2 separate regions of the Homo sapiens genome follow, and region 1 is linked to region 2. Evidence: fine-mapped expression QTL. Tissue or cell type: whole blood. Region 2 holds a variant in brackets; the other region holds the start of a gene. All regions are shown on one strand. Distances are from middle to middle.

Region 1 (2,685 bases), 540 kb after region 2:
AGTATAGACACCAGTCTAACTCAAAGTCTAGAGCTAACCCCTCAGGCAGGTGTACATTTAATACAATTTGATGATAATGTATACATAAAGTTCAACTAGTCTTTCTCCTTAGAAATCTCATTGTCAATTTCATAAGGGACGCTCTACTGAGAAAATGAATCACAGGCCAGTTTTCTAGTACTAGGAGCTTGTGAACCAGTATTTTCCATGAACAAAATCCACTTCCAATGTGATCACAAAAAGCAAACTTCACATCCGTATCTTCTGACATCATAACTAATGGATATTCTACGGAAGATGCCAAATATAAACACTACTGTAAGAAAAGTCAGAAGGTTTTCATGAAACTGTGTTTTCAGAATTTTAACAAGCAACTACTTACCTCCCACTATGCACGAGGAAATTTAAATGTATTAAAAATCCCTAAACCCCTCCAGTGCCAAAAATAAAGGCCTTAAAATCATTTTCCAAACTGCGCTGAAATCTGTCAGGCAAGCAAAAGTTCTCCTTACCATTAGTGTAATAAGGCTGGCATTTCAGTTTACTTGCATGAAACCAATTTTGCAAGTGACCACCCAAGTTTTGGTACATATTCTAATATAACCCTATCTGAGAGATCCAAGGACCTGGACACACTGCCTAGTATCTGAAACCCGTCAGTTCAGCTCCCATGCACCCGGCCACCTCCCGCTAGCCGGTGGCCCCTTTCCACATGCTGACGCACTGCCCAGCCCTGTACCGTTGGCGACCAGTGCAAAGTACTAGCCCAGTCTCAGAAACTTTGACTCAGTTATCAGGACACTGAGCACTCACAAGGTGGGTGGGGGTTGGGGGGAGGTGTTTGTCATGGCTCAGGAGGTCAACTTTGAAGCGGGGCATTCCCTACAGGTAGGGATCTGCCCGGAACGCATCCCATCCCAAACTGCAAAACCACAAGCATCAACAGCAGGAGCCGAGCAAAGTGCTCGGCGGAGGAAGAGGAAGGGCGAGGGAGAGAAATGGTCGAGTACAGAAGCCTGCGTGTGGGTAAGAAAATACCCTAACCACTCGCCCACCGGACGCAGGGCGGCTGGGACTGCGAATCCAGCAGCAGCCACAGCGTAGCAGCGGGCGGCAGCCGCCGAGGCAGCAATGTCAGGAGGGCACAGCTGGAGGAGGCGGCCGCCAAAGCCACTACCCCACCCCCAGGTAAGGGCGCCGACCCCGCCCGCCCTATCCGCGAGGAGCGGCCACCTGGGAGAACTGCGGTGTCCGGGAGGCGGCCGACAGTCCTGAACCCGCCCCCTACCCTCCTTACCGCGGTCCTCCCGCATCCCAGTCCTCGGCTGGGGCCCCATCTCGACCCTCCCCAGGCTCAGCCCGACGCCAACACACCCAGGCAGCCTCGGCCCGCGGATCCGGGCCGCCGGGCCGCCCTCGTGTCCCTAGGAGGCCGTCCTCGCCTCACCTCTTCACGTCTCCGCGGGCGCTGCCGAGACAACAACTCCTTCAGGCGCCCGCGTTCCACCCTCCACCTCGCGCTCTGAAGCCGGGCCGGTCCCGTTCGCTCCGCCACCGCTGGAGCCCGAGGAGGGCGGAGGGAACTGAGAGGGGAGGGGAGAAGGGCCGCCTGGCAGGAAGAGGCGAGGGAGGGGGCGGGCCGAGAAGGAGGGGAGGAGGCGGTGGCGGCGGGTCGGAAGCGCGCTCGTCCAGGCCCCTCTGCGCGGCGTGCGCGCTCCTGATGTCGGAGGCGCCCACTCTGCCGGGCGGCGGCGGCGCACACGCGCGTGCACGTCGCTGCGTGGCCGCGGTTGCGCCGGGAGCGGAGGAGTGAGGTCCTGACAGAACCAGAGCTGTTAGAGCAGGGACGCGCGAAAGGCGGGAGTACGGGCGGCGCTGGAGAACCTCCGCGGCGGAGGGGCCTGGGGGTGGGACCGCGCCCGCGAGCCCGCCCTGACCGGGGTGCGTTCTACTGGCAGTTGCTGAGTTCGGAAGATTAACTCTGAATGTGGAGAGATTATTTTCTTGCTCGTAAACCTGGTTTACATATTTTCATTCTTAATGCTCAGTAATCTTAAGGAAAGTCACCTGAAAGAATACTTTTTCACCAAGTACTCTTCTGCGCCTGTTTGAAGGTGTCTGTGTGCTTGTGAAGCGCTCCCTTGTTAGTTCCTTCTGTGAGACTCGGGGGAGACTGAAGAGGGAAATCACCTGCGGGGAATGAACAGGAAAGCAATAAGTAAGCACCATTACGTATTATATGAAGAAAATGTGCCCTCATTTGCACCTTTTTATCCTTTGGGGTAAAAGATGTTGAGGTACAAACTAGGTAGAGGTAGAATAAACCAACGCTTTTTCGCTACGAAGATTGTACTGATCCTTGAATTGTGGACATCCTTCTTCTAGATCCTGCAACCAGAAATGACCTGTAAATTTTCCGAATCTCCTTAGCACTTTGTTCTGTAGTTTTGTGGCACCTAACATGTCAGGCTTATCCAGGTTGCCCTGTGCAGCATTTTATCCCACTAGACAACCGCTGTGAACCTGTATCATTCATTTGTATCTTACACTGTGCACCCTGCCTAACTCATAGGAAGCACTCAATGAATGTGATTGCATGGATAAGTGAATATAGTGTCCAGTGATTGCAGCCATAGAATGACTTTAGTTTAAATATCTCCCTTCTATCCCACTTCAATTCCCCTG
Region 2 (2,685 bases):
TTATAGGCACCCTCCACCAGGCCCGATTATTTTTTGTATTTTTTACTAGAGACAGTGTTTCACCATATTAGCCTGGCTGGTCTCGAACTCCTGACCTCAAGTGATCTGCCCGACTTGGCCTCCCAAAGTGCTGGGATTACAGGTGTGAGCCACTGTACCCAGCCCAGGGTTCAATTCTTAACTAGCTAGAAAAGAAATGTATCTTCTCTTTGGAAATCATCTAATCTGGGGTCTATGATGTTTCAGTATATTTTTTGAACACTTAGAAAATTCTAAGCCACGACAAACTATTTAGAAATCTGTCTTCAGCATATTAAAAATGGCAAAGCAAAGAAATTATGCAAAGGTATAATATATAAAATTGGATATCTTCTAAAAATGCCTTTATGGTAACTTTATTTTTTTCTCCCAATTTAAACAAGCAAATGGTTTTCAAAAGCATGAACAGCAAGGTACAAAGTATTAGCATAGCTATTACCATAACTGAAAGACAAAGGCCACCTTCATTTTGTTTTCCTAAATAGACCACAAAAAGAAGAATAAAAAACAAAATAAGCCATTTCTTGAACTACATGCTCTCTTTGAAAAATAGCCAAATGTGCCCATTAGGTACTTCAAATGGAACGTCCAAATGCTCATTCAGTTAACTGAAAAAAAACTGCTAACAGAAAAATGTGGTTGAGGTTCTTCATAGTACCACACATCTGTTATTTATTAGGTATATTTACTTGATTCTCAAAGCCCTTAGGAATACTGACCTTTGAAAATATATGAATTTTTTGGTAAATAAAAGGCAAAAAGCGAGTAATCCCAAATATTTACTTGGTAGAATTAAATCGTTAAAAAGGAGCTTATTGCTGTTAATATCCATATTTACCAGATTCTTCTACATAGTCTTTTTCCTCCTTAATGCCCATTTGTCATTGTACTTATGGCTCGTTTTACATCCCTGCCTCCTTTTATTTCTTTTCAATTTTAAAGTCTTCTACCCTCCTACATTCCCTTCTCCCAATAAATTGTTCCTTTAACCTCACTGCAAATTCATCCTCTACTGCCCTGTTCTTCTAATCTCTCAGTCTCCTACTGGCTTCACTTCCCTCTTTAGACACCTACGGATCCCCTGGCAGTTCATATCAATGAGCTCCTACTAGCATCTTCTGCTCTCACATTCCACGAACCTCCTTCCTCAACCATTTTACCCTTCCCCAATATGGAATCAATCCATCCATGTATCTCCTTCACATTTCTCTTGGATTCCCAAAACCCCTTTTAAACAAAGTCACATAAACATGCCACAAAAACCCATTATAAATTTAAGATTATCAACTTCAGGTAGAACTCCAAAGCTAGTTAAAAATTCCTTTTGTCAGCTCTGGTCAATCACTTTGCCTGTGGTCACAATCTTTTTTACTGTGTAATATTTGGTATATATAAAAG[G/A]ATGCATGTTTCTCACACACATTTATAAATACGCATTGTAAAGCACAACAACAACATTGAGATTAGGAATTATATTTAAAAATTTTTAAATGTATCCCTACAGTATTTTAGTATGTTTTATTCTCTTATGAATATCTTTCTGGCTTTTCCAAGTGTTCTACGTGGACTCAAATAAGGAAGTGGTGCTAATTAGTATGCAGAAAGCTCTTAGGTATTTCAATTTTTACTCTGTAAATATCTCCATTCCTCTACAAACAATACTTGGCAATCTCTTAATGATTAAACTCATTAGATTCTCACTTCAAAGTATATTTAACTTGAACATTTAAAATGTGAGATATTTTTAAAATAGTAAAATGGCTAAATAAACATATTATGATAGACCAATGTAGATATTGGTCTGAAACTAAATCCATGTACATTTTCTATAATATTCCATTAAACTTCTATAATTCATTATTGCTTACCAACTCTATTAGGCTTTTTCTATGACTCAACAAATCCCTGAGTGATAAAAGTTCCTAATTTTTATTTACCTGCATTAGTCTCTCCAACTGGTAGAATTTGCAATGAAGATCTTCGAAGTTGTTTCTGTAGAGGTCTCTCAAACCATAGTCGTACATGATTTTCACCAAAACACAGAATGCTTGTTCCTCTGGCATCTACAGAAAAATATATACATATACAATATAAATAAGTGGCATTTTGCCAGAATGTCAAAAAAGTTCCTTCATGTTATTAGTCCTCTGCATAAGTAGCTGAAGGCCTGGAGCAAATGAAGTCCTTCAGAGCCAGTCTTTGGCAGAGTGACATGACCTCCTTACTTGAGATGAATTATCTTCTTTTGTTAATTTTAATCATGTTGTCATTCATTCATTAGGCTACCTTTAAAAACAGGCAATACACTCATGATTAAAAAACCAAAGCACACTTTGGGAGGCCAAGGCAGCCAGATCACTTAAGCCCAGGAGTTCGAGACCAGCCTGACCAACATGGCAAAACCCTGTCTCTACAAAGAATAAAAAAATTAGCCGAGTGTGGCAACATGAGTGTGTAGTCCAGCTACTTGGGAGGATGAGGTGGAAGGATCGCTTGAGCCTGGGAGGTGGAGGTTGCAGTGAGCAAAATCACGTCACTGCATTACAGCATGGGTGACAGAGCGAGACCCCGTCTAAAAAAAAAATAAAATAAAATAAAATAAAAACAATGTAAAAAGATCTAAAGGTAAAAGTCTCGCTCCTCCCTATC

What was found. PIP is the estimated chance that this variant, and not a neighbour inherited with it, causes the effect.
Region 1: it holds the start of RABGAP1L, and the variant in region 2 is fine-mapped to the expression of RABGAP1L in whole blood (INTERVAL, PIP 0.93).

The regions. Positions count from the first base shown.
Region 1 is chr1:174,158,420-174,161,104 of GRCh38, reverse strand. It overlaps RABGAP1L (RAB GTPase activating protein 1 like), which reads right to left and starts at 1,585. Exons shown (of 26, transcript NM_001366446.1): 1 at 1,448-1,585. It overlaps RABGAP1L-DT (RABGAP1L divergent transcript), which reads left to right and starts at 1,818. Exons shown (of 4, transcript NR_121197.1): 1 at 1,818-1,941; 2 at 2,115-2,218. RefSeq lists silencers at 1,180-1,359, 1,480-1,879.
Region 2 is chr1:174,698,939-174,701,623 of GRCh38, reverse strand. RABGAP1L (RAB GTPase activating protein 1 like) reads right to left here. Exons shown (of 26, transcript NM_001366446.1): 16 at 1,974-2,099. Among named protein-coding and RNA genes, the nearest start is that of GPR52, 250 kb to the right of the region's middle. The variant G/A (reference allele first, on the strand shown) is at 1,438.